Linked DNA regions of Homo sapiens: regions 2, 3 and 4 are each linked to region 1. The links come from fine-mapping of genetic effects on gene expression. A gene starts in region 1. Each other region holds a variant in brackets. All regions are shown on one strand. Distances are between the middles of the regions. Region 1 holds the start of KAT2B (lysine acetyltransferase 2B). Region 2 overlaps KAT2B (lysine acetyltransferase 2B). Region 3 overlaps KAT2B (lysine acetyltransferase 2B). Region 4 overlaps KAT2B (lysine acetyltransferase 2B).

Region 1 (8,230 bases):
AAAAAAATACAAAAATTAGCCAAGTATGGTGGTGCATGCCTGTGGTCTCAGCTACTCAGGAGGCTAAGGTGGAAGGATCACTTGAGCCTGGGAGGTACAGGTTGCAGTGAGCCAAGATCACGCCACTGTACTCCTGCCAGGGTGACAGAGCGAGACCCTGTCTCAAAAAAATAAATAAATAAATAACCCAATCCTATCAATATCTGTGGGACACCTAGAACTGTCCTATATGACAAATCTCTACTTAGTTGTCAAGAAGTGATTAAGTTAAAATTCCACAACTGCTAACATCACAGCTAATCATTTCTTCCATTTTCTCTTCTCTGGTTCATTCGCTTAGTCAATAACCGCATGGCTAAGAATCTATTCAAAGATTCTAAATGCACATCAAATAATCATACAAATCATAAAAATCATAATATAAGCACCAGGAAGAGTACAGATGAATTTGGATAATTTCTAATGGGAAGGCTGCTCAGGGGGGTAAAGGAAAGGCAAGGAATCTGAGTTCTATAGGAAGGGTTGGGAGTTAATTTTAAAATGTGGAAAGAAGAGCTTCCAGTCCCAGTGAACAGCATGTGCAAAGCCCCTCACCCCACCTCACCCCCGACTAGGTGAAAGGAAACCATGTGCCTGAACCCTCGATAAGGAGCCACAGATAGCAGTAGCCAGGCCATGCAGGGCCTTGTGGACCACAATAAAGAGAAATTAAAGGGCCTGAAGTGTGGGTATAACATGGTCAGATCTACTTTATTTTATTTATTTATTTATTTTTTTTTTTAGGGAGAATCTTGCTCTGTCACCCAGGCTGGAGTACAGCGGTGCAATCACAGCTCACTGCAACCTCTGCCACCACGCCTGGTTAATTTTTTATTTTTTGTAGAGACGAAGTCTCACTATATTGCCCAGGATGGCCTCAAATTCCTGGACTCAAGTGATCCTCCCGCCTCGGCCTCCCAAAGTGCTGGGATTACAGGTCTGAGCCACTGCGCCTGGCCTAGATCTACATTTTTAATGAACACAGAACCAAAATGACTCTGAAGCAACCTTTACCAGGACACAGTTCAAAGATCTGGATCCTGCGAAACAAGTTTGTTTGTTTCTTTTCTTTTTTCTTTTTTTTTTTTCTTTTTCTATTCTCTGGGGTGTGGCACGTCACCCTGGCTGACTTAGCTCCCTTCTTTTTTGGTTTCGTTTGTGAAGTTTAAAGGCCAGATTTATATCAGGCCTGGGACCTGTTTTTCTTTCAAAAGCCCCCCAGTGAACTACCTTATCTCTTTCTAGATCCCTCCTCATTCTCTAATCTCTCTAATCTAACTTGCCAAGGGGCCTGTGGCAAAGGTAGAGCAATCTGTCCTTTTGGGCTTGCTCATATTAAGTGCAGAAACAAGCTGAGAGAGAACCACAGATTTTGCTCTCTTACACTCCCTCGTACCCAATCAAGTCCAGTTAAATTTTTTTTTTTTTTAAAAAAAGCAAATCTGAGATAATGTCACTCTCCAGGTTAAGATTCCTGCACTCCTCAGTGCCCTCTTGGCCACGCACCCCAGCCGGTGGCCCTAGGCAACAAAGGTCTGGCTCAGTTGGCCCACCTCCAAGCTTCCACAACTGCTTTCAGTTTCTCCACTACAAGAAGCTTCACCCCACCCCACTCTGCCCTGCCAAGAGTTCTTAGCAGCCACTGACACTTCCTCCAGGAAGCCAATCCCACCCTACCAGTGCCCCAGTCTATGAACTGTCCTGCTCTGGGTCCGCAACTACTCCAAGAAAGTAGTTTTTCTGAACTTCTCTGTAATTTTGGTTCACTGCCCTCATCCCTAGGCCCCCAACACATGCATACACACACATGCACTTGTGCACACACACAATAAGTAACTCCTGAAGGACAAATTCTGTGTGTCATAGGCCCAGCACCTAGCCCAATGCCTGACACCCAGTTGGTAACCCTCTAAATATTTACTGAATGAATGGATACATAAAAATGAACACTTTCAGCCAGGCATGGTGGCCCATGCCTATAATCTCAGCACTTTGGGAAGCAAGGCGGGCAAATTGCTTGGGCTCAGGAGTTTGAGAACAGCCTGGGCAACAAGGTGAAACCCTATCTCTACAAAGAATACAAATAATAATAATAATAGTGTACTGGCGCATGCCTGTAGTCCCAGCTACTCAAGAGGCTGATGTAGGAGGATCACCTGAGCCCAGGGAGGTTGAGTCTGCAGTGAGCTACGATCATGCCACTGCACTCCAGCCTACGTGGCAGAGTGAGACCCTGTCTCAAAAAAAAAAAAAGACGTTAAAATAAATTTTCTCTTTCTCTTGTTGGGTCATGAAAGTGACCAGGAAACACTCAAATCCCACTTGGAAGTGGTGCTACATCTCACCCATGGAAATTTGAAAAGATCAAAAATATCAATGCAGGCCACATATGCTCATGGTTTTAGACAAAACCAAAACTTCAGGAAAGTTTTCAGATATTAAAGCTACAGCAGGCAGCAGGAAGTCTTTAAGAGGTGCTGGTGATGAGAACCCAATAAATAAATTTTAAAATAAAGCCAGAACAGAAACACTGAGTTGAGACAGTTCCTGCATGAGCCCACTTTGGCTGCGAAACGCCAAGGCCACCAAGTAATTGACCTTGCTCTTTTTTTTCATAGGTTTTTGTGGAACAGGTGGTGTTTGATTACATAAGTTCTTTAATGGTGATTTGTGAGATTTTGGTGTAGTCATCACCCAAGCAGTATGCCCTGTACCCATGACCTTGTTCTTAATTCTGTACATAGCTCGCCCTTCTGCCTACTACAGTCGGTGTCCTGTTCTCATTCGTCTAATGCCCTTCATGATCAACTCCTGGGCTTGCACCTTTCTTAGAAGCACACTCCCCACTTCATCTTTTTTGCATTCCTTCTTCAGAAATAACCACATAGCATTATTATTTGTTTCTGTCTTTTCTGCTAAAATCAAAGGGGACAAATAATATATTGTCCAGGTCTGAATTGGAATGTGGTCTGTGGACTAGCATAGCATCACTTGGGAGTTTGTCAGAAATGCAAACTCTCAGCTTCCACCTCAGACCACCTGATTCATAATCAGCATTTTAACCAGCTTCCCCAGGAGATTCCCATGCACATTAAAGTTTGAGGAGCACTGGGCTAGATCCTACATTCACTCAACAAATATTTATTGAACCAGTGTAGGATACAGAGGTGCTTAACATAAACCTGAGCATATGGTGTGGAAAAAGAGCAAGCATAGACATTCCATTGTGACTGAGAAGCTCCTGCAAGTACCAAGAAGAGTATAACCTAGATGTTCTAGTAGAATAAATTATAGTTATGTCAAAATTCAGAAGTGGTCACTGCAGCTTGGTTGTGACAATCGGGAATCTGGAATCTGGGAACTTGACCCTCTTTACAGCAGGCAGGAAGAATACAGGGAGGTGTGAGTGTGTGTGAGTGTGTCTCTTCCCTGCCTCAGCCACAGGCCGCAGGAGCTGACAAGGCCAAGTCCCCGCCCCCCTCAGCTGTCACCCTGTCAAAACAAAGCCGCTGCTGACAGCGCAGGGCCAGCCTGCCCCGCGGCCTCGGGCAATCCTCCCACCTCGGGAACACAGCCTCCACATCTGGATCTGCAGCTGGAGGTGACAGGGTGCCTAAACTGGCATGGAGAGTGGGTAGCAAGAAATGGGTGTCCTCAAACTGAGCAGTAGCGCCCGCCGCGCTGGGCTGTCACTTTGCCAAATCCTGTTTACACCTCGAGCAGCTGGGACAGCGTTTTAACTAAACAAGTAATAATACAATAATGACAGGGCTGTCACCGCGCGCGGCAGTGCCTCCGCCCCCAGCCGAGGGCGCCAGGCACCACAAGACCCTCGCCTCGGACTCTGCCCACCTTCCCACCCCGCGCTTTCCTCCCCTTCGCTTTCCCAAAGCGCCAGGAGTCCGGGAGTCTTCTCCACCCCCACTCCTTGCACCCAGTTCCTCCCAGTGGGACACAGGAAGGGATCGATTGCAGAAGGGACCACTCAGTCCCCCAAAAGATTTTTCCTTGCCCCTGGGTCACCCGCCACATGGAGAGCACCGCTCCACTCCCGGGAAAGTGACTCCAGCGAGCTCCTACAGAGCAACAAAACCCCAAGGTAGCCCGGGAGCTCGGATGCCGAAGCTACTCCTTTCAAGCGGAAGGAATGAAGGGCTCTCCGTCTTAGTGATCCCCCTTCTTCAAACCCAGCAGGACTCTTATCCAAGAAGAAGCTAATTGGGCGCGGGCGACAAGAGCACTTCCGCGGTGCAGCGGCCCCAGGCGGGAGGCGAGAGGCAGGAGGCGGGAGGCGGAGGTGGAAGCGGGAGGGGGAGGGGGGTCCCGCGGGCTGGGCCCCTAGCACCCATCCGCGGTCCGAGAGCGGCGAGCGCGTACCTTGCAGGCGGAGTACACTCCGAGTTTCTCCAGTTTCTTGGCCCGCGGAGCGGAGCGTAGTTGCGCTTTCTTCACGGCGATTCGGGCCGAGCCACCGCCTCCCGGTCCTTCGGCCGTGCCCGCTGCAGCCACTGCCGTCGCCGGACCGCAGGCGCCCGAGCCCCCGGCGGCAGCGGCGCAGGGGGAGCCCTGCGGGGGCGCGGGCGGAAGCGCCGCAGGCTGCGGGGGCAGCGCCCCGGGCCCGGCCCCTGCCCCGGCTCCTGCCCCGCAGCCGCCCGGCCCGGCCCCGCCAGCCTCGGACATGCCGCCCCGGAGCACGGCAGGAGGCGCCGAGTGTCAGGCGCCGCCGCCGCCGCCAGGGTCTCCCTCTCGGGCTCTGGTAGTCGGGAGAGCGAGACCCTCCCCCCACGCCCTCCCGCCCCCTTCGCCCACCCCCCTCCCCGCCCCCGCCCTCCCCCTAGCGCGCCGCTCGCCCGGCTCGCTCTGGCCGGGCCCCGCGCGCTGATGGTGGTGGCGGCGGCGGCAGCGGCGGCAGCTGCTCCCCCAGGAGGGAGGGGACTAGCGGCTCCGCTGCCGCTGCCGCCGCCGCCACAGCACACGCCCTCCCTTGGTTCTCCTGCCCGGGACTCTGCTCCGCGCCCTGGCTGCGGACATGTTCCTCGGGACTGCGGACTAGGTGTGCGTGCCGGCGGCTGCCAGCCTCACGGTGTCTGCCAGCGCTGGGAGGCCCCCCACGGCCTCTTTTCCGCTGCCCGCGGGGTTTGCACCCCCCACCCCAGTGCTTCGACACCTACCGCTCGCCCGCCAGGGGGCGAGGCCAATCCCTGGGTGTGGGTGAGGGTGGGGACGAGGGTGGGGGTAGGGGCCTGGAGCCCAGGCACCTGCTGGCCACCTCCCCCCTCCGCGGCCCCCCATCCGACCCCCGCACGCCTGCACCAGTGGGAGGGGGCAGCCTCTCAATCATTTGTCCTTTCACTCTCTTCCACCCTGTCTCTGACAGAGAGACAACTTCCTCCACCCTAGCGGGAGCCAGAGGAAAAAAAATATATTTTTGAAAAGTACCCGTCCATGCTAATCTTTTTCTTTGTTGCTAATTCACCAAAATAAAGACGTGATGTTCTCCCTTTCTCTTTTTAAATACTTTCTGTCAAACTATTTTTTAATATAATTAACACTTTCTTCCCATAGCAATTTCTGGGTCAAATCTGCCGGAGGAGGGGAAAAAAACTTACTATTCTCTGTAATTTTTGTTTGAAAGTGCTGGTTGCTAAAAGAAAGATTGTCTAAAAAGCATTGTCAAAAACTATGCAGTGGAAAAAGTTTGAATACAAAAAGTTTGTTAACAGGATTCGTTTCTGGGTGGTGGTTCTATAACGTTACGTAGTTTTCAAAATTGTGCCACCGCGTGCGTATTAACCAGGAAAAAGATATAAGCATAATTCAAAAGAATAAATATCGATTTTGGCCTCAAACTTTAAAAAGAAAAAAAAAACCCTCAACTCAGTGTTTCCAACTCTTGTTGAAAACTGTTGTTTTCACTGTTGATGACTGTGGAGCATACAAGTCAGTGCTGCGTTTGAAAGTGGTGTACCGTTGATCGCCTTCTTAAGCAGGTTTTAAAAGCCCAGGGCTTTTTCTCAGGACCCTTCAGAAGTGCCCTACTTTTTGTTATATGCAATGTGGGTCATAATGTGCTTATTATCAGATTTTATGCATGCTGTATAGCTCTCAGGCCAGACGCTTTAAGGGGTGTGCTTTTCGTGGGAAACATTCCCCTTCTTCTTTTTCCAGATTCTCTGTGTTATTTTGACTTGTAATGCAGGTTAATATATAAACATTGGGAGGTGGGGGAGTTTGTAGATCTAAACAGTGATATTAGCTTAGACAGGGCAAAAGGCAATATTCTCTCCCAACTTGAGTCCAGTCTTGAGGGGATGAAATGGCAGATTCTTATCAGGTTCCATTCAGGACAATTAATTTCAGTGCTTCCTTTCTTAGCTTGACGTGCTTCACGTTACCAGTGTTACTCTCTCCTGGCTCTGCTGAGATGTTTCGCAGATTTTTGCCATTCTCCGCAAAGCAGGGTGAGAGTCTTAAAGGCTGTGCTTCTCTGATCAACCTCTAACATGGATTTAACAGATACTAATAAGAGCTTGGGTTCCACCTTGCAGGCATTTGTCAAACTGATGGAATGATCCACTTGAGATCTGTACATTTCACTGGATATAAATGTTGCCTCAAAAATTTTTAAAAAAAGAAAAATCACAAGCATTGAACTCTAATGGTGCTCTTTGTACTTTGAGATACATCAAAAATAAGATGTATGGATGCCTCCATGCATGGGTAAAGGGTGGATGAACAGAGATATGATAAAGCAAATAGGGGTCCATATAATAGAGTCTAGGTAATGGGCACAGTGCGCAATTCTTTCAACTTTTCTGTATGTTTGAAAATTTTCACAGTGACAATTGGGGGAGGGAACCCAGATTTAACATTAAGTCACCTATCAACTCCTCCTCCCAAGCGTCCCTCAGAATTCAGGAGGCAGACAATTTCCAGGATGTTTTGAAGCAGAAGTAGCCAATCTCCTTTCAATCCACTCTGAAAACCATCACTGTCTGAGTGGCGAATGGCTTGTGCCATTAACTGAACATTATTTTTCATTATTTCCCTGCTCAGAGTACCCAGATGACATACTGCCTTAGGCTGAAGGCCCGTGGTTTCAAGACCTATTCAAAGTGTGTTATGAGCACCAGGCAAGGAAATTTCAAGGGCAAAGGATTCAGGAGGCTTATTGCTTTTCCATAATTAGGTTGTTGTAAGCATTCAGTGTGCTCTTTCTGTGCACACAGTACTTTTAAGAAATAACTACCAAGAAAATAAAAGGCAATGTTTTCATTTACAAAGTATTTACCACTTACTGAGGTAAAGAAGCTACATTCAGAAAATAAAAGCTTGGAGAGTGGGCATGGTAGAGGCAGGCTGACCACTGGAGGTTACTTGTGGTATATTCACACAACAGAATATTTTATACCTGTTATACACAATGACCTTTATAAAAATATAATAACATAGATCTCTAAGAAACACTGTTGAATAAATCTCAGTGCAGCATAATACCATTTATGTTAAAAACAAACTCACATTGACATATAAGCACAATTTTGTATATGTTCAATAAATGCATGGGAAATTCAAAAGTAAGGGAAAGATTTAAAAAGGTACATAGCAATAAAATAAAATTTCAACTTCAGAACACGAGATTATATAACAAGAAGTTGATAAGGTCCACCCCTTCCCATTCTCCCTGGTGCTGCAGTATACTTCAGCCAAACTCAGGAAATGCTTTCCTACCTCAGGGCCTTTGCATTTGCTGTACTATGTGGATACCCTCCACCAAACAGCATGGCTAACCCTATTCATCTGGTATTCCTTGCTCAGAGATGCCTTCCTAAAAAAGGCAAGTTTTGTGGCCATCTATTGTTATATCATCTAGCAGAGTTTCTTGCCATATTCCTTCCTACCAAGGCTATACAGCTTCTGTAATGTACCAGTAACCCTGAATCCCACAGATGGATTGAAATTATCCCCAGTAAAGGCACAGACTGTAAGGGTACAGATCAAGTGGTCAAAGTGCAGGTTTGGCCCAGTACATGGACCATGACTGACATTCTTCCCAGACACCTGCTTTTAGAAACAGCAGTTGGATATGAGTGTAAAATAAAGAGACATGTCAATGCCTAAGTGGGGCTCCTTGGGCCAACCTTCCTCTGAGGGAAGTGGCTATAATTACTGAACATTTATTTTAAATTAA
Region 2 (8,230 bases), 39 kb before region 1:
ATTCCTTTAGTGTCCTTTACCTTCCACACATTACCAGCCACCAGACTCCACTGAGCTTCCTCATTCTCTCTCAGAGACACTGCATTTCCCCATCCTACCTTTCTTCCATTGGAATGTCAAACCTACTATAATAAAATAGCCCCCTAGACTGTTCTCTCTGCTGCCAGGGTAGTCTTCCTAAAATACCACTTTCCTTAAACAACCCCATCTCTACCAGATCCAGAGACTACTCCTGGCTCTTTGGGGATGCTGACCAGAATTAGACTTGTTTAACTTATCTCTAGATTTACCAGTCTCCTAATTAATCCCAACCCATGTCAACACCCAGGTGAACCTCACTCTAACTGCAAAGCTAAACTATTTACTATACTGACAATCAATTCATATTAAACCAAAAAGAGTCATTCATTATTAAAAGAAACCCTTCTCTTAACCTTTTATTAAGAAGACTTTTTGATGCAAATAGGCTCCCTTCAATTATCTAAAAGTATGTTTTCTTAAAGAGATAGGCCTCTATTATTTATGAGTCTAGGAGCATATTATTAAAAACTAAAAAATAAAATAAAAATCTATAAACTACAATGCACAAATCTATAGCAGTCAACCTGCCACAAAACTCAAGATATGAAGTCGCTGCTATGTAAAACTTTGATGTATCGCTCCCTAATTTAACCTCCCTCATCAAGATGTGCATCAATGTACACTGTATCAGTAGTGAGAGACTATTCCTTTTTCCTGTGCTCTGCCTACAGTGGAGAACCATCCTCGGTAATTTAACCAATCTTTTGAAAATTAATAAGCACCCCCTACTGTTTTGATCTGCATTCAACGGAAGGCCCAGGGAGTTGTTTGTTTTTCATACTACTGGCTGTTTGTATTTGATCTCCTGTGTACCTGCCAATTTGAGTTCCTTTGCTTGGTTTTTAAGATGTTAGTCTTTTTCTTACCACCTTGAATAAACCTTATGTACTACCTTTAGTCTGCCATACTCATTGCAAATGCTTACGTATTTGGTGGGGAGGGATTTTTGGTTTATTTGGTTTGGTTGTAGAAAAATGTTAATCTTTTTAGAAAGCCATATCTACGTTGGCAGTTCTTTAAGGTTTTGCTTGCAAAGGTTTTTCCTACATAAACAAAAAATAACAAAAAATGTATTTTTCCTAGCTCTTTAAAGAGTTTGTTTTTAAAATTTAAAACATTCCTCCATCAAAATGTCAATGTTATAAAAGTCAACAAATAAAATAAAATGCTGAGGAACTCCAGATTAAAGAAAACTAAAGAGACATGACAACTAAACAGATATGTGATTCTTGAGTGGAGGCTTAATGGAAAGGAAAATATGTTATAAAGAACATTTTTGGGTCAACAGATAAAATTAGAATACAAACAGTAGATTAGATAAAGGTATTATATTAATGTTAAATTTACTAAAGTTGGTAATTGAACTGAGGTTATTAAGAGAAAACCGTGGCCGGGTGCAGTGGCTCAAGCCTGTAATCCCAACACTCTGGGAGGCTGAGGAGGGCGGATCATTTGAGGTCAGTAGTTCGAGACCAGCCTGGCCAACATGATGAAACCCCATCTCTACTAAAAATAAAAAAATTAGCTGGGCATGGTGGCAGGCATCTGTAATCCCAGCTACTTGGGAGGCTGAGGCATGAGAATCATTTGAACCCAGGAGGTGGAGGCTGCAGTAAGCCAAGACTGCACCATTGCACTCCAGCCTGAGCAACAGAGTGGGTCTCCATTTCAAAAAAAGAAAACCTTATTATTAGGAACTGTATATTGAAATATTTAGGGGAGGAAGGGCTATGATATATAAGTAACTTATTCTCATATAGTTCCAGAAAAACAAATTTATACGTAGAGACTCATATATATATATATATGAGACTCTCTATATACATTTATACATATATATATATGAGCCAATGACAGCAAATAAAATAAAATGTTACTAATAGGTAAATCTAGGGAAAGGATTTATGGGATATTCTTCGTTATTATTCTCATGACTTTTATGTAAATTTTTAATTATTTGCAAATTAAAAGTGTTTTTACAATCTTTCCTCCACCTGAATTTGATCATTAAAGAATCCTGCTTTTACTTTAAATAGTCTTCCAAGAGCCTGATACAAAGCATTGATATACACTAATTACCCAAGATTGACCAACCCTTGAGCTGTGGCAAAGTTTATTCCTTTTGGTGGGCCACAGTTCCCCCAGTGTCCACTTTGTGTGAAGGGCACAAGAAAGCAGACAGAAGGTGCAAGTGAGGGGACGAGGGGAGGCTTTGCCTTCTTTAGATCACTCCAGAAGGGTATACCTTGGCACCTCTCAGTGCTGTGTCAGACTTGCAAACACCCAGGGTGCCAGAGAGTGACCCGCCGTGTGACTGCTGCCAAGAATCACGGTGCAGCTGTCAACCTTGCTGAGAACAGGAAGCACACTGTCACTGTGTGCCGTGACCCTCACTAACCTCTGGCTCCGTGTATCATTGGCCTGCACTTCTCGTGAAGACAGTCAGCCAGTCCTCACATGCCCTGCAGTGTGAACAGGCAGCAGCTGGGCAGGCAGCTAACATGTCCCTGCTCCTCTGGACCAGAAGCAAATAACACAATAGGATTTGAAGGCTGCTCAAATACATTTTTTGTTCATGGGAATTTGGCATCGAGGCTAGAAGAGGTAAAATTAATGACTACAATGAAATCTGTCAAATTGACTAATGTGCAAAAGGCTTATCATTTAAAAGTGGTTTCATTTTCTGTAATCTCAGATCTGGAATGAAAAAAAAGAGAAGCCTAAGAGTAAGAGCCCATTAGATGAGAGCAGTCCAGTAGAAATATAATGCAAGCCACATATGTAAATTTAAGTATTCCAGTAGCTGTGTTTAAAAAGACAAAAGAAGCAGGTGAAATTCATTAAATAATATATTTTATTTAACCTAATATATACCAAAGTATTATTCTTTCAATACGTATGCAATATTAAAAGTTACTATTTACATTCCTCTTCTTGTACTAAGTCTTCAAAACCTGTGTGCATTTCACGCTTACAGCACAATTCAAACTAGTGAAATTGCAAGTGTTCAATAGCCACACATGGCTAGTGGCTACTGTGTTGGACACAGCAGGTATAGATTATAAACTTTGAAAGCTCCTCTGCAAATATATGCAACCAGCCCTCATTTTACCATTATTGAATTCAATGACTATTTACCAACAAAAGAATAAGCACAATTATGCACAACGAACTAAATATATTACAAACTAGAGAAAAAGTCAACTCTTAATCACAGTTCAGTACAGATTGGTATATAATTATAGTTATATAAGAAGGAACATTGCCACAGAGCTCTAAGAAGGCCTTTATTCTCTCTACAGAGTTCTGCAGTCAAGCCTTGGAGGATAAGCAGAATTCCCTGGCAGAAAATGAAGGAAAGGCATTGAAGGTGGTGTGAGCTTCCAGATCTAAGGCAGAGGTGGGAGAAAGTTCAAAGAACCTTTGGAGAACATGGAGCAGCCTGATGGCCAAAATGCAATGAAGATAATTGGAGAAAAGCTTTGAAAATAAAGAGGCCTCAATGAACTGAACCTGCTTGCTCAACTACAGATCACCCTTCACTCTGAGGATAATGAGAAGCTCAGAGGGGTTAAGCAGGAGAATGGGATCACATTGTATCATCACTTTATGGGAAAGCCAGGTATGCAGGAATGGAAATAAGAACTCCAGAAGCTGCAGCAGACACAGGCAAGGAATAATGAGGAAAAGCCTAAATTCAGCCAGTGCTAGAGGCAGGAACTTGAAGGGAGTATCAAACAGGATTTCATGACCAGAGGACGTCAGGGAGACATAACTTATACCAAATGAGCAGAGAAAATATTACCAGTATTATCCCCTTAACTCCTGCTGTGCCCGACCCACAGCTCCTGAAAACTCTGAAACCGGCATCTGAAAGGCTGCATTAGCCAGCAGTGGACATCCAGCCAAGAGGAATATGCTGGCTCAATTCAGGAGGCTGTGTCATTGTGCTAGCTGGGCCCCATGTTTACGTCCTTTGGCATCTGCACAGTACATGTATAAATGGGAACTGAGGGGGCAATTATATGGTACAAGTCTATGCAAATGTCGTATGATCAAAGAAAATGTGTTGAGTCAAATGATCTGCCTAAATGATTTAAATACTTGAAATATCCATGAGAAAAATACTGGTATTTTCTTCATAATACTCAAGAAGTAAGCTCTAGTGTGATTGTTAAAGCTAACTCTTGACCTTCCTTAAAAATCTCTGGGAGTCTCAGGCCAGAAGCGGTGGCTCACGCCTGTAATCCCAGCATTTGGGGAGGCTGAAGCGGGCAGATTACCTGAGGTCAGGAGTTTGAGACCAGCTTGGTCAACATGATAAAACCCGTCTCTACTAAAAACACAAAAATTAGCCGGGCATGGTGGTGGGTGCCTGTAATCCCAGCTACTTGGGAGGCTGAAGCAGGAGAATAGCTTGAACCTGGGAGGCAGAAGTTGCAGTGAGCCGAGATTGCACCATTGCACTCCAGCCTGGGTGACAGAGCCAGACTCTGTGGCAAAAAAAAAAAAAAAAAAA[AG/G]AGGCCAGGTGTGGTGGCTCATGCCTGTAATCCCAGCACTTTGAGAGGCCGAGGCGGGTGGATCACCTGAGATCAGGAGTTTGAGACCAGCGTGGCTAACTTGGCAAAATCCACTCTCTACTAAAAAATAATAATAATAATAATTATAAAAATTAGCTGGGTGTGGTGGTATAAGCCTGTAATCCCAGCTACCTGGGAAGCTGAGGCAGGAGAATTGCTTGAACCTGGGAGGCGGAAGTTGCAGTGAGCTGAGATCGTGGAGATCGCGCCACTGCACTCCATCCTGGGCAACAGAGTGAGACTCCTTCTCAAAAAAAAAAAAAAAGCTCTGGGAGTCTCTTTGAATCAATTCTGGTTGTAGGGTGAGGGGTCTGCCTAACTCAAAATTTTAAAAGTTAACAGAAAAGAAATTCCCTACTGTAAACAAGCAGAAAAGCAAGGAATCTATAGTGACAAAAAACAGTCAGTTCCCACTGCTGAATGTGTACATATATATATACATATATATACACATATATCAGAAAAAGATGATGAAGGGTGCGGTAGCTGTAATCCCAGCACTTCGGGAGGCCGAGGTGGGCAGATCGCTTGACCTCAGGAGTTTGAGACCAGCCCAGGCAATATAACAAAATCCGTCTCTACCAAAGATACAAAAAAAAAAAATTAGCTGGGCATGTTGCTGCATGTCTGTGGTCCCAGCTACTCGAGAGGCTGAAGTGAAAGGATCGCTTGAGCCCAAGAGGGGGAGGTTGCAGTAAGCTGAGATCGCACCACTGCACATCAGCCTGGACAGAAGAGAAAGAAAAAGGTGACAACACTGAAAAATAATCAAAAAACCTCTAAACTAAAATATTATTACTAGACAAATTTAATAATCAGTCTATTCTGAAACAGTTCAGAACAATGGACTCCAAAATAACAATAGAAATTCCAATTATGTTTTGATCACAAGGATTTGTTTCCTACTTTCCTGCTCGTAAAAACAGGCTGCCTTTTTATTTATTTATTTATTTATTTATTTTTGAGACAGGGCCTCACTCTGCCACCCAGGCTGGAGTGCAAGTGGTGCGATCTCGGCCCACTGAAACCTCTGCCTCCCAGGCTCAGGCCATCCTCCCTCCCACCTTAGTCTCCCGAGTAGCTGGGACTAAAAGGCACATGCCACCACACCAGCTGATTTTTGTATTTTTTGTAGAGGTGGAGTTTCGCCATGTTGCCCAAGATGGTCTCGAATTCCTGGGCTCAAACAATCCACCTGCCTCAGCCTCCCAAAATGCTAGGATTACAGGTGTGAGCCACCATGCAAGACCCAAGCTGCTTTTTAAATAGCAGTCCCAAAATAAGAAAAATCTTTATTAATACTAAAATAAGGAGAAATGCTGGGACCAACTAAAGCACTTTGTTAGATCCCTTTGTCAAATTTTTGTAAACTGAATATTATTGTGCCAATCCCAAATATAATTTCAGAGAATGAACTAGAATATTCTAAACCAGCACAATTCAATAGAAATACAATGTGATTTTTAAATTTTCCAGTAGAAATAATTTTAATAATACATTAACCCAACATATTCAAAATATTATCATTTCAACATATAATCAATATAAAATATAATTACTGAGACATTCTGCATTGTTTTTGCTTATGATGTCTTCAAAAACTGTGTGTATTTTACACTTACAGTATATCTCAATTCAGAGTAAACACATTTCATGTGGCCAGTGGCTACCGTATTGTACAGCATAGGTCTAGACCAACCATTTCATTCTGTGGATGGAGATACTAAACAGCAAAAAGGTTAAGGAACTTGGTAAACTGCAGGGCCAAGCTAGAATTCTTTTCTTGGTTTTGTTTTGTTAGAGGTGGGGTTTTGCTCTGTCTCCCAGGCTACACACACAGTGGCCCCATCACAGCTCACTTTGGCCTCAAACTCCTGGGCTCAAAGGATCCTCCCATCTCAGCGACCTGAGTAGCTGCCATTACAGGCACAAACCACCATACCCAGACAGGCTAGAATTATTACTTCCTAGTTCCCAACTGAATGTTCTTTCTACTTGATCAGACTATCTCACTCCTGTGTTTTATGTCCATGAAACACAGAACAGTATTAAATTATGGTAGACCAAAGATGTCTGGGATGAAAGAAATTGTCAGGAGACTACACAAAACCACAGCTCCAAAGAACATATATGGCTGAGGCAAAAGAAACCCAACATTTAATCAATAGAATTGATACTATCTCAATCAATAAGCCAGTATGTTTTGTTCTGACAAATTCAAGAATATTTCATTTCGTGTGTACAATTACTGGTGAGTAAATCAACCATGCTCAGAATGGTGACTACTGTATGTGAAAACAGAACAACAATGTATACCAACTGAAATGTATTTGAGAATTCAGGCTTGCGTAATTCCTAACAGAATTCCCTAGACCCCAACTTGTACTTTGTCGGTAACAATTAAGAAGATATCTGCATGAATAAGATAAGAAAAAATGTAGGAAACTTGCTAAAATACTCTGGCAAATAAAAGCAGGGGGTTAGATACAACAAAATTGGCAAATGTAAATAATCATTAGAGCTGGGTGCTGAGTCCAAGGCAGTTCATTCAACTATCCCTTCTGCCTTTACGGGTGTTTGAAACTTTCCATTAAGAAAAAAAGTTTTTCAAAAAGCACGGAAAGGAGGGAGGAAGGAAGAGTAATCTCAGAAAAAGGTTTTCTAGAGCTGTTATACTAAGACCAATAAATAAACACTGGCATTCCAACAATAATTCCAAGACCACTTGAAAATGTGCAGTAATTTCAGTTTTAAGAAAGCAGACTAAAGAATAGAGAAGAAACAAGGAAGAAAGGAAGGAGTAGGGGGAAATATTTTTTAAATACCTATACCCCCCGTACCCTGAGAAAATCAGTCAGCAACTCAATATACATCCTTCCAGACCTTTTCCTGATCATATATATTAAAATACATGTTTGTGGTATAGTATGAAATATACTTGGTCTTTGTCCCAGTTCCTGTCACAAGCTCTTAAAACCCTTGGGATTTCCTGAGCAGGAGGAGTATCTTTTATTGTTCATCATGAGCCCCTTTCGATCATACCTGAGTTTATGCTAATGAGGTGACTTAAGATAGTGCACAGATAACCCAGGATGAAGCTGCTCACCAGAGAGACCAGGTTATTAGAAGATTAAAGGATTGGAACCTTCAACCCCACCCATCAATCTACAAGAAAGGTAAGGGAGGGAAAGTGTAGAGATAAAGCCGTATGAAAAAAATTTTTTTTTTTTTTTTTGAGATGGGAGTCTCGCTCTGTCGCCCAGGCTGCAGTGGTGAGATCTCGGCTCACTGCAGCCTCTGCTCCCAGGTTTAATCGATTCTCATGCCTCAGTCTCCCAAGTAGCTGGGATTACAGGCTCAAGCTTCCAGGTTGCTGAACATGTGGAGGTGCCTGGGGGGTCGTGCACCTGGAGAGGGCAAGGAAGCTTCACTCCCCTTCCCCAAACCTTGCAATGTGCATCCCTTCATCTGGCTGTCTGTGTATCCTTTATATTAAACCAGTAAACTGAAGTGTTTCCTTGAGTTCTGTAAGCCATCCTAGCAAATTATTGAAACCAAGGAAGGGGTAT
Region 3 (8,230 bases), 100 kb before region 1:
TGCTGAGGTAACTACTTCCAAGACAGTGAGGTTATCCCTTTAATAAAAAAAAAAAAAAAAAAAAAAAAACTAAAAAAATCCCATCCGGAAATTAAACATATCATAACGAAATTTTGGAAAAACGAAACAAAACAATAGAAATCACTAATTGCATTCACAAAGGAAAACAAAAAAATCTACTTCCTGATTGATTTCAAACATATAGCTGGTAAATACTGCAGCATGAATATGTAATCCTAACAGTTAAACAAATAACTTCATAAAATGAATGGGACTAGTAAAAGTATATTCCTAGTAAATCTAGATCAGTGCTGTCCAATAGAGACATAATACAAGCCACGCATGTAATTTAAATTTTTCTACTAGCCGCATTTTTAAAAGGCAAAAAGAAACAGGTGAAATTGATTTTAATAATGTATTTCATTTAACCCATTATATCTAAAATGTCATTGTAACATACAATTGGAAAAAAGTGTAAGATATTTTACATTGCTTTATTCATATGAACTCTTGAAAATCAGAGGATTGGCCAGGTGCAGTGGCTCACACCTGTAATCCCAGCACTTTGGGAGGCCGAGGTGGGTGGATCACTTGAGGTGAGGAGCTCGAGACCAGCCTGGCCAACACGGTGAAACCCCATTTCTACTAAAAATACAAAAAATGGGCTGGGCATGGTAGTGCACGCCTGTAATCCCAGTTACACAGGAGGCTGGGACAGGAGAATTGCTTGAACCTGGGAGGTGGAGGTTGCAGTGAACCAAGGTTGTGCCATTGCACTCCAGTCTGGGTGACAGAGCGAGACTTCCTCTTAAAAAAAAAAAAAGAAAAAGAAAGAAATGAAAATCAGAGGATTTTATACTTACAGCATGCCTTAATTTTGACTAACCACATATCAAGTCCTCAGTAGCCACATGTGGCTAGTGACTGCTACTTTTGACAAGGCTGATCTAGATGGGTGCTTTCCATTTATTTATTTTAAGTCCATTTATTTATTATAAGTCCAAATCTTAAAAAAAAAAAAGAAAAAAGAAACCTGGCTGGGCTTGGTGGCTCACGCCTGTAATCCCAGCACTTTGGGAGGCCGAGGTGGGCAGATCACGAGGTCAGGAGATCGAGACCATCCTGGCTAACACAGTGAAACCCCTTCTCTACTAAAAATTACAAAAAATTAGCTGGGCATGGTGGCGGGTGCCTGTAGTCCCAGCTACTCGGGAGGCTGAGGAAGGAGAATGGTGCGAACCCAGGAGGCAGAGCTTGCAGTGAGCCAAGATCATGCCACTGCACTCCAGCCTGGGTGACAGAGTGAGACGCTGTCTCAAAAAAAAAAAAAAAAAAAAAAAAAAAAAAGAATCCCAAGGGCAATCTCTTAAATCGACACCTTCAGAGAATATGCTGAAGACTGTTTCAATTTGAAAGTTTCCTTCTCTTCACCAAGGGACTCTCAAATGCAATGACCTACAGATGGCTTCCACTCACCTCATGTAGCACCTTAAAGATTGTGGGCTCCTGAGAAGTGACTGTTAATGGGAATGGGAGGCGTCCTAAGCTCTCTGTACCTCTAGTAATCAGTATGGAGAAGAGATCTTTTTTAATTTATTGTTTTCATTTTAGATACAGGGGGTATTATGGGTATACTGTGTGATGCTGAGGTTTGGGCTTCTAATGATCTCACTGCCCAAGTAGTGAGCACAGTACCTGACAGGTAGTTTTTCAACCCTTACTCCTCTCCCTCTCTTGCCTCTTTTGGAAACTCCAGTGTCTACTGTTCCCATCTTTGTGAGCATATATCCCCAATGTTCAGCTCCCACTTATAACAGAAAACATGCAGTATTTTGTTTTCTGTTCCTGTGTTAATCTGCTTAGGATAATGGCCCCAGCTAAACCCACACTGTTGCAAAGGACATGATTTTGTTCTTTTTTATGGCTGCATAATATTCCATGGTGTATATGTACTACATTTTCTTTATCCAATCTACCTTTGATGGGCACCTGAATTGATTTCATGTCTTTGTTATTGTGAATAGCGCTGCAATGAACATAAAAGCACATGTATCTTTTTGTAAGAACAATTTATTTTCCTTCGGGTATATGCTCAGTAATAGGATTTCTGTGTGGAATGGTAATTCTATTTTTAATTCTTTGAGAAATCTCCAAACGGCTTTCCACAGGGGCTGAACTAATTTGCATTCCCACCAAGAGTGTATAAGCATTCCCTTTTCTCCACAGCTTTGCCAACATCTGTTATTTTTTTAACTTCTTAATAATAGCCATTCTGACTGGTGTGAGATAGTATCACATTGTGGTTTTGACTTGCATCTCAGAAAGGAGATATTTTCATTGTGTTCTAGTGTATTAACTTCACCTCCCTAGAAAATATCTTCAACTCCCTACCATGACGATAAAATCAATGCCTTCCAAATGAAAGTATGTCCTCATCTTCTTCTCCTGAAGTCCACAGCTCAGTCCTATGATCTACTGCTGTCAGTTTTAGGGTCTCCCAAAGCAGAAAATTTCAGTGGAGTAGTTCCCCATCTCCAATACATCACCCAGTCTTTGCATGTCTCCTTATAAAAAAATTGCATTGAGTCTCCCCATCCTTACTTTGGCTTCTCCAACCCCAATTCCTTGTATTGTCACATGTAGATTAAGATTTAAGAACTTATCCCCCCACCCACCACCCAGCCTATCCACACATACATGTACATAGGTATATGTACGTACACACACACACACACACAGGCACATAGATACCCAATTATGCTTGCTCATAGCCTATTCGCGCTTTCTCAAATAGTGCCTTCATCACCGACATAACAATGGTCCTACCTGTTCATGTGCCCACAAATCTGTTTCCATTGGACTCTGAGCCTCTGCTAATGCAGATTTCATCACCAGGCTGCCCAGTTCAAAACAAATGTCCCACAAAGCCCTGTCAGGTGACATGAGGCCCCTACAGATCCTACCTTTCCCTTGGAGTCAACACTCACAAAGTAGCACTTAACTCTCCACTCTTGGTCCACCTGTCCAACTATACTAGTTTTCTCTCTCTCTCTCTACTAATGACAACTACAACTTATTCTGCTCCTGTATACTTTTAGGGGCTAGGAAATGCCTCAGAATATTCACTGTTTCTTTGCTGCCACCATGAATCCCTACCTTCCTTGAGGGGTTTTTCACAGTTGGAACAAATAATACTTATAAAAAATCAACTGAATTCTGTGGAAAAAAATACTACATGAATCCAAATATATTTTTATTGAAGTGACTTCAGATAGCTTTTTTAAAAACTAGGTTAAGATCTCCAAACCTCCATCACCCATTCAACGGAATGTGTGAGGGAAGGCTGGAGGCAGAGGGGGAGGAGAGGAGAAAAAAGAATGGGGAGGGAGCCTTGGCTTCTAAAAAGTTGACTGCTTTGTTAGCCATCTAAAATAGCTCTGCGCTTCTGGCGTTCCCCTGTAGGTTTGAAGGGCCAACAGATCATGTACAATGTGAATTTGCAGACTCTGCCAAGGGAATCCTGCTCTCAGCTAACACCGTGGGGATGAATTAGTGCTGCTGGGAGGAGGAATGAGGAAAGAGCAGCTGACAGCGGGGTGATGGCTTTAGTTGGCCAGCAGCCTCTAATGCGGAACGATGTGCTGCTGAATCCAGACCTGCTCATTAAGCTCCAGAGAGAACAATGAGGAAAGCCAGCTCTTCAGAGAGACAGGGAGAGAGAGGAGCCCGCTGTGCTTTATTAACTCTTCCAAGTGCCTACTTGGAATTCTCTCTTAGGCTGAC[A/G]TCTTTGAACAAAAAGCAACAAAAGTTGTTTGTATTTTCCAAAAAAAAAAAAAAGCCTTTGCTCACTTCCCCAGGAAACACAAGAACAAGACTGAGCCACTTTAAGTAAAAGAAAAATACTTAATGAGTAACTACTATGCACCAGACACTGTGTAAAAAGCTTTAGGGCTGTTAGGTAGATAATGCCTAACAAAAAACTAAGAACTGGGATTAAGGAGGTTAGTAGAAACCAGAAAACAAAGATGGGTATAAGACAGATGTCCTCCTAAGCTATTTGTTAGAGAAAAGTGCACTAAACGAATAACAGAAGTATCAAGTGGAATTGACGTGGGATGACACAGCTGCAAACTCCACCCAACTGGGAGCAGCCAGGAGGTGATCCTGGACTTAACACACAAAGTTCTTTCTTTCAATAAATGGCCTTTGTGTACTCCCCAGTTCTGTTCTTTTCATCATGAGTGTTTTTTTTTTCTGCCTTAGAAAATTTGAAATTATTATGTATTCAACTCTGTCAACCTTTCCCTTTTACTGCTTCTCTTTTCATTCATATGCATAAAAAAAGTCACCTCAATACCAGATAACAAATCACTTAATACCTAGAAGGATAAGCCTTCAGAACTTGCCAAGTAAAAGCAGAGATTAATATACAGTAAGGTAAATGTCTATGTAAGATGAATAACTGAAATTCAAATAGGTGGATCAAACTGGTGCTAGAGAAGTTCAGAAGAGGAACTGGAACACACCCTGAAACGGTTTGATTTATGTGTGTGCTGAGTGAACGGGGTGGCTAATGGACAAAGACACTTTGGAGAATAGTAAATAGATGCACTTGGAGTATTTGGAGATGAAAGTAAAGAGATAAGAGTGGGAACAATAATTGAGGCCAGAATGCAAAATGGCTTGAAGGTGAAGTTAAAATATGTCACCATATTTTACATATTTTGTATTTTACATATTTTGTATTTTACACAAATTTAAAAAGTAATGACTCTTGTAGAAATGGTAACCGAGAAAGGAAACAGATCAAGGATACCTTTAAAGAAATCTATGGCCAGGAGCGATGGCTCACACCTGTAATCCCAACAATTTGGGAGGCCGAGGCAGGTGGATCACTTGAGGTCAGGAGTTCGAGACCAGCCTGGCCAACATGGTGAAACGCTGTCTCCACTAAAAATAAGAAAAATTGGCTGGGCATGGTAGCACACACCTGTAATCTTAGCTACTCGGGAGGCTGAGGTACGAGGATTGCTTGGGCCCAGGAGGCAGAGGTTACAGTGAGATAGTGCCACTGCACTCCAGTCTAGGTGACAGAGAGACTCTGTGTCAAAAAAGAGAGAGAGAAGAAATCTAGATAACCCACAGCAAACCGAGAGTTTGCTATCCAGTAAACACATACACGCAGCACCCAAGGAAATGCAACCCACCCCAGCTAAGACTGGCCTGTACAGAAGGTAAGGGAGTCAACCACCTGCTTACCTCCTTCTGCTTTTTAATGATGACAGAAAATTCTGTGTACGGGATCCGTGGATTTAGCTCACATCCCATTAAAGTGGCTCCTTCATAATCCTTGATATAGCCAACATATTTGGTTTTAGGTATTTTAATTTCTTTGGAGAAACCCTGAAAAGCAAGTAAATTCATTCATATGAACACCATACACCAAATATCTACTGAGTGCTAACTATGTTCCAGGCACTGTGTGAGGAATCAAGACAAGCTTCTTTGAAGTTCTCATTGTACTATTCTGAAGAGGATTAGCTTAAAACCACCCATGAAGTTCAAAAACACCAGAAATCTAACTGTGTAAATAGGAAGCAAGACAACATTTTTTAAATGGCCCTAATAAAATGCAAGAAATATTAAAAAGTTTAAAACAGAAACAGGTGTTAAGTAAAAATTAGGTTTAATTTTGTACTGAATTACATAATTAAATATGACCGTTGCAAATTTCTCCAAAAGTGGTGAGGGGGTCCCCAGGATTCTCAGCAAATCAATAACTAACATTGATCTAAATTATCAAAGAAAAGATGGTCAAAAAAATAAAGTGATTAGAAACTTAATGTTTCTGAGGAAATGAAATCCTTTCTTTGCAGGCAAAAAAATTCCAGACAGTCACAATGTGTGGTTGTTTCAATGACATTAATGCTTTGGAATATACTCATTTACACACTTTAAGCCATAATAACAGACTGCTTCAGAGTATATATTCAAAATTATAAATAATATATTTATAATATAAACATAATTTGCCTTAAGTATCTATTTCAGTTATTTGCAGAAAATTTCTTGAACTTCAGCACCATCGCCAGCAGTTCACTGCCTCATCTTTCAACAAAAACTTATTTTCCAAGTAATTATTGCCATCATCCTCAAAGAGGACTACAGACAAGTCATTTAAGAACCATAGCTGAGATCTTATGCTTTGCACTACAGTTACAGCTGAGGAAAGCTGATGCTCAAGACCTCAGTGAAACAATCCAATTAAGTTCTCAGTGAGTTTTACCATAAAAGTTAAAATGCATCTCAAACAATGAGAAGATAATAAATAGGAGATTATTTATCTGTCTTCAGAGCACAAAAAGCTTTCTAATTACATAAGAACACATTTTTAAAAAAAAAGAAGTCTGGCTGGGTGCAGTGGCTCATGCCTATAATCTCAGCACTTTGGGAGACTGAGGCAGGAGGATCACTTGAGTCCAAGAGTTCAAGACCAGCCCAGGCAACATAGCAAGATTCTCTCCCAACCCCTCACCATCTCTACAAATGATTAAAAAAAAAAAATTGCTGGGCATGGTGGCATGCACCTGAGGTCACAATTACACAGGTAGCTGAGGCAGGAGGATCGCCTGAGCCCAGGAGGTTGAGGCTGCAGTGAGCTATGATCATGCCACAGCACTCCAGCCTTGGTGACAGTGTAAGACCCTGTCTCAAAACAAACAAACAAACAAAATCCAAACCAAAACAAGTCAATAGATTTTATGTAATAACATCTTTAACATTCTGAAGATTTAAAGAAAAAGCCATAAGCAATGTTGAAACAAATATTATCCAAGGTTAATATAGTTATATACTAATAGTTCTCACAAATCAATGTACAACTAAACATTTTTATAGAAAAAGGGACAAAAGAAAATGAATTAGCAATCCAAAAAAGGAACAAATACAAAGAATTGATAAACATGGAAAAATAAATCAAACTTCACATAAATAAATTCAAACATACACAATTTATTATCTGGAAAAGTGGTAAATTTTTTTTCAGTTACCAACTCCTTTCCTGACCCCCTTATACACTGCTGACAAAAATGGAAATTTTTAAAATATTTAGCAACACATTACAAAAACCTTGATTTATTCTAAGCAAATTACCATCAATGAGGGCAAAACATGTACACAAACACACACCCATACACATGCACATTACCTACAAGAAACACCTAGTCAAAAATGTATTGGTTAAATATTTTCTATTTCTACAACAAAATCCTAGGAAACCACCAAAATTATTATATACACAGTATGAACCAACTTTTATGTTTATATACACACAGAAAAAATACTAAAAAGATTTATGTCAAAGCATTAACAGCATAGGTATGAGCTGAGAGGAAAAATAACAGAAAAAATTTTAAAATAAAAAAATCAAAGCATTAACAGTAAATTTCTTGGGGTGACAGAATTACAAGCCATTTTTCTTTCCTTCTTTTGCTTTATTACATTTTCTACAATGATTACACATTACTTTTATAGTCAGAAAAGTAAATGAAAATGTTTAGGAATTATAAATCACTATTAAAAATAATATGCAGTCAAAGAATAGTCCTCAAAAAGCTGAGCTGAAAACTTATTTTAAGACTTATTTAAAGAGAGACAAGTTCTCACTATGTTGCCCAGGCTGTTTCAAACTCCTGAGCACAGCAATCCTCCTGCCCTGGCCTCCCAAAGTACTAGGATTACAGGCATAAGCCACTGCACCTGGCCTGAGCTGAAAACTTCTGATAAGAAACTGCTAGGACAGAGGCCTGGTGAGGTGGCTCACGCCTATAATCCCAGCACTTAGGGAGGCCGAGGTGGGTGGATTGCTTGAGTCCAGGAGCTCGAGACCAGCCTGGGTAACACGACAAAACCCTGTCTCTACTAAAAATACAAAAAATTAGCTGGGTGTAGTCACAGCTACTTGGGAGGCTGAGGTGGGAGAATCACCTGAGCCCAGGAGGTCAAGGCTGCAGTGAACTGAGATTGCACCACTGCAGTCTCAGCCTAGGCACCAAAGTGAGACCCTGTCTCAAAAAAAAAAAAGGAAGGGAGGAACGGAGAAAGGAAGGAACTGCAAAGATGACAGCCAAGCTCCTAGCCCACTATGTGCTGTAGAATCAGGACTGTTTGCAGGTTTTTATAAACTCCAGGATTTCCTTTCTGCTGTCATAAATGGAGGCCTTCCAGAAAC
Region 4 (4,911 bases), 81 kb before region 1:
CATATGGAACAACCAGCTCACAAAACTCCTGAAAATTTAACAATTTTCTTGTGCATTCCAGTACAAGCCAGCTCTAGTACACTACTAAATATTAATATATCCAAAATATTTTCAAACATGTGACTGCATCCTGATGTAGTTTGAATGTGTGACCCCTCCAAATCTCATGCTGAAATGCAATCTCCAATGTTGGAGGTGGGGCCTAGTGGGAAGTGTTGGATCATCAGGGCAGACCCCTCATGAATGGCCTAGCACCATCCCCTTGTTGATGAATGAGTTATTGCTCAGTTAGTTCATATGAGATTTGGTGGTTTAAAGGGGTCTGGCTCCTCCTCCTCACTCTCTTGTTCCCTCTCTCACCATGTGATGTGCCTGCTCCCACTTCACCCTGCACCATGAGTATAAGTTCCCTGAGGCCTCCCCAGAAGCTGAGCAGATGCTGATGCCATTCTTGTACAGTCTGTGGAACTGTGAGCCAATTAAAGCTCTTTTTTAAAAAAATAAATTACCCAGTCTCAGGTATTTCTTTGTAGCAATGCAATAGACTAGTACAAATCCCCATTTTATAGCTGAAAAAAACCTAAACTCAGCTAATCTGTAATGTTACTAAATCCCTAAAAAACTATAGTCTTAAGCCCTCACAGACTGGACATCTAGGAGGAAATGGAAAGATCAATTTTAGGAAGAGATTTTTCTATTACAACATTCTGGTTCTCTGAAGTATCCTCAATGTCATAAAATAAATATTTAAAGAAACATGACAAATTGAAAATTAACACTGTAATATAATCTCCAAGCCATTTCTTCATTTCCTGGAAGCTGTCAGAAATGTCTTAAGACAGGTATGTCTTAAGAAATGTCATTGCCTTGCATGCCCTCAGATGCAAGGCAATGAGATGACAGCAGCATTTTTACCAAAAATGCCTTACTTGAATCTAATCCTTAGTAAACAATCAACAAATCCAAAAAGAGGGACCTTATACAAAACTAGCGACCAAGACTCTTCACCAATGGCAGTGCTGCAAAAGACCAAAACAAGGCTGGGGAGTTGTTTTAAAGGAGACTAAACAAATGAAGAGATAAGAATTAAATGCAATGCACAATCCCTAACTGATCCTTCAACAACAACAAAGGTTATAACTGACATCATCTGGCTATATGGGAAATTTAAATACGGTTTTATATTAGGCCAGAGGTCAGCAAACTTTTCAGTGAAAAGCCAGATAATAAATATTTCATACTTTGCAAGCCACACATTCCCTGTCTCAATTATTCAAATTTACTGTTGTAATGCAAAGACAGCTGCAAACAATATGTTTCAATAAAACTTTATTTGAAAAAAACAGCCAGTGGAGCAGATTTGGCTTGCAGGCTGTAATTCACCAACCCTGTATTAGAAAATATTGTAACCAGGCTAAATTTTCTAAGAGTAATGACTGCATTGTGGTTATGTAAGAGAATAGCTTCCTTATGAGATACAGTACATGCAAAAATAGTTAGGGGTGAAGTATTATGACATGTGTTTTTAATTCTGAAATGGTTCCAAATGGTTCATGGGGAGTGGGGAGAGAAAGAAAAAGAGCATATGGGGAGGCGCAGAGAGAAAGAGAGGTAGCAAATGTGGCATAATGTTAACTGCTGAATCTCAGTAAAGAGTCTATGGATTTTTATTACAGAATTTCTGCAACATTTATGAGGGCTTGAAATTTTTCAAGATAAAAAGCTGGGAATGATGCCTTCAACTGTGAGATTATTAGTAAGTGGACCTGTGATGTGATATTCATCAAGGGGAATTACCTCTTGATCAGTTGTTCCTGCCCTCTCCACACTGACCACCAGGTTAAATGCAAACCAGGGTAGCATAACATGTTAACTCTCAGCATTAGCATCCCCACTTCTGACAGCTGGAGTGGCCAGGAGAGCAGAAGAGGTCTACCAGCTGGCTGCCCAGGTTTACCCTGCTGACCTCTGGTCCAAGCATTGCTGCAGGGTCCGTGATGGTAGACATAACCTCGTTGATTAATTCCATCGGAATATCCCCCATAACTCGGGGTTTCTTGGCCTCCTCCAGAACATGAGAATCAGTCATTTTCCTCTTTTCTCCTATGATGATCAAAATAAAAGGCAAACAATGGGTGGTTCTAAACACAAAACAAATAATACACGCCAACTAATTTTCTAACAGCATTGATGGGCATGGAGGTCAACTCTATCTTTACCACCAGGGGAAGGGGTGACAAAGGAAGACAGGAAAGAGAGCCATTGTGAGCTCACAATAACTGCCAACCCAATTCATTGTGAATATTTTCTACTTTCTATGATGATTTTTAACTAGATACATGAAATATTAAGGCACATGTTCCTTCATCTGCAAATGCAAAGGGGTGATTCTAGCTATTGTTTGTTAGTACTCTCTAATATAGTCTCTTCAAGGTCAGAGAACATGGTCCATATGACACCAAAACGTCAAAATGGATTGAAATTTTTACCTTATGACCTAAAATAAGACCAATCTTTTGTAAATGT[G/A]CAGTGTCTTCTTGGAAAGAATGTGTATTTTCATATTTTGATCTCTATAACTCCATTAGCTTCAGCTTACAGATCATGTTGTATGGATATCAGTAAGAGCCTTACTGATATTTTTGTCTGTTTGACCTATGAATTACTCAGTTGTTTGTTTAAAGCCTCAACCGTTGGTTGATTTGATTATTTCTCCTTGTAGTCATGTTAATTCCACCCCGCCCCCACCGGCACCCCACCATATATGTACGGAAATCAGTTTGCATTAGGCTTTGGGCTTTATTGGTTAGTTATTGCTATGTAATAAACCAACCCCAAATGAGTCTTAAACCATAATAACTTACTATCATAGCTCATTCATTTCGTATGTTTCCTGATGGGTGGCTGATTTCAGCTCATCTCATTCAATCTTGGCAGGCTTGTTCATGAGTCTACCCACTGATTGGAATCTCTGTGCTGGGCTTGGCTATACACACACACACACACACACACACACACACACACACACACACACACACACATATGCATATGTGTATGTATGCATATATATTATGTATATATAGCTATATATTTGAAATATACCATAAATTATTTTTAATAAACAAATTTATGGATTTAATTTTCTATTATAAAATGACACACTTTATCTTTTACAATGCTTTTTTGCCCTAAAATGATGCCTCACAAAGTGAGCAGGACCACTAGCCTATCAAGTAGATGCAATCTCACCATTCCACACAATAGGAGAGCCATGCAAAGGCAGAGAGAACTTTCTTCCGCTTTCCTCATGAGATTGCATGGTAGTTTTTTTCTCCTTTCTATTCTCATGTTTGGTTTTTCCAGTTTTTTCCAGACATAACATGTATTTATTTTTACAAGTAAATTTTTTGAATTTTTAAGATGTCTAGATCTAATTTATTTCCTCACATGTGAATCCCACTGCTATCTCAATATAACATTCTCCACATAGCATTCTCACTATCTCTAGTTGAAAAGGAGCAGAACAGTATAAAGTAACTTGACTGTAGACGATTCTTCCAGAAGTATTACATATTATTTACTAAATCACTTTTGTCGAGTTCTTTTTTTTACAATTTTTTGTTGTTTGTTTTTGGAGACAAGTAACAATATTTTCAGACATCTGACCAATAAGTCCTCAAATTCCATGATTCCCTAAGAGTAATGCTGAAAACTATTTATTTCGTAGCTGGGGTTTGTACTTGATATGCCCTCTGCTTGTTAGACTGCTAATGGTGTTTATGATTTTTTTTAAAAAGTCTGAGGCTGAATCCAAGCTCACTGGTAAAGAGTTTCTGCATGAATTAGTGATATCTCCCTTGGAAGTGAAAGGGAATGGTGGCATATGCTAAATATATGGCACTTCTTATATTATAAGGTCCTCTTCTTTCCCTCTTTCATGGTACTTCTTTTATTTAAAAATTTGGTCACATCCAAGATTTGTCTGACGTCAAGTCTGTGGACAGAAATGCAACCTTCAAAACATTCTCTAACTGTGAAATGCTTCTAGGCTCAAGAGATATTTTTGCCCATGTGGTAGATTACATTAATGGCCAAATTCTTTACCCTCCTGGTATCTACACTCTTTGCTATGTGACTTTGCAGTTATTCCTACGAAAGGAATAGACTACCTTTTTCCACTTCTCCACCTCTCAACTCTGAGTTCAACTACGTGACTTGCTTTGGACGACAGAATGAGGCAGAAGTCAGCAGGGTATGGTGGCTCACACCTATAATCCCAGCACTTTGGGAGGCCGAGACAGGTAGATTACCTGAGGTCAGGAGTTTGAGACCAGCCTGACCAATATGGCAAAAACCCATCTCCACCAAAAATACAAAAATTAGCAGGGCATGATGGTGGGCACCTGTAATCCCAGCTACTCAGGAGACTGAGGCAGGAGAGTCACTTAAACCCAGGAGGCAGAGGTTGCAGTGAGCTGAGATCACACCACTGCACTCCAGCCAGGGTGACAGTGTGAGACTCTGTCTCAAATAAAAAGAAAAGAAAAGGAAAAAAAAAAAGAATGTGGCAGAAGTGATGGTTTACAAGTTCCAAGCCTAGGCTTCAAGAGACTGTGTATTTCTTCCTGCCCTCTCTCATCACAAGAAGGACATGTTCCGGGTAGCCCAATAGTCCCAGGAAAATTATGAGAAATATGTGAAGCAGAGTTGCTTCAGCTTAAGTGCTCTAGCCAAGCCAAGCCCAAAACAGAGATTATAATCAATGGGTAACTTGCAACCAAGCCCAGCCAAGATTGAGTGAGACTAGCTGAAATCAGCCAACTCTCAGGCAACACACCAAATGAGTGAGCTATGACAATAAGTTATTACAGTTTTAAGATAGCAATAACTAACCAGTACAGCCAAAAGCCTAAT

Evidence for each region. PIP is the estimated chance that this variant, and not a neighbour inherited with it, causes the effect. A credible set is the group of variants that fine-mapping cannot tell apart.
Region 2: its variant is the best candidate, but not a certain one, in a credible set for the expression of KAT2B in lymphoblastoid cells (TwinsUK, PIP 0.67).
Region 3: its variant is the best candidate, but not a certain one, in a credible set for the expression of KAT2B in blood mononuclear cells (TOPMed, PIP 0.51).
Region 4: its variant is the best candidate, but not a certain one, in a credible set for the expression of KAT2B in blood mononuclear cells (TOPMed, PIP 0.78).

What each region holds. Positions count from the first base shown.
Region 1 is chr3:20,036,967-20,045,196 of GRCh38, reverse strand. It overlaps KAT2B (lysine acetyltransferase 2B), which reads right to left and starts at 4,751. Exons shown (of 18, transcript NM_003884.5): 1 at 4,417-4,751. The coding sequence starts at 4,719. RefSeq lists enhancers at 1,479-1,638, 1,719-1,888, 3,250-3,439, 4,156-5,126 and silencers at 4,290-4,349, 4,550-4,679, 4,850-5,489.
Region 2 is chr3:20,075,574-20,083,803 of GRCh38, reverse strand. All of the region lies in intron 2 of KAT2B (lysine acetyltransferase 2B), which reads right to left. Among named protein-coding and RNA genes, the nearest start is that of KAT2B, 39 kb to the right of the region's middle. The variant AG/G (reference allele first, on the strand shown) is at 4,601.
Region 3 is chr3:20,137,394-20,145,623 of GRCh38, reverse strand. It overlaps KAT2B (lysine acetyltransferase 2B), which reads right to left. Exons shown (of 18, transcript NM_003884.5): 13 at 5,260-5,403. It overlaps MIR3135A (microRNA 3135a), which reads right to left and starts at 8,059; the gene lies at 7,983-8,059. RefSeq lists a silencer at 4,281-4,481. The variant A/G (reference allele first, on the strand shown) is at 3,784.
Region 4 is chr3:20,119,860-20,124,770 of GRCh38, reverse strand. It overlaps KAT2B (lysine acetyltransferase 2B), which reads right to left. Exons shown (of 18, transcript NM_003884.5): 9 at 1,967-2,103. Among named protein-coding and RNA genes, the nearest start is that of MIR3135A, 15 kb to the left of the region's middle. The variant G/A (reference allele first, on the strand shown) is at 2,527.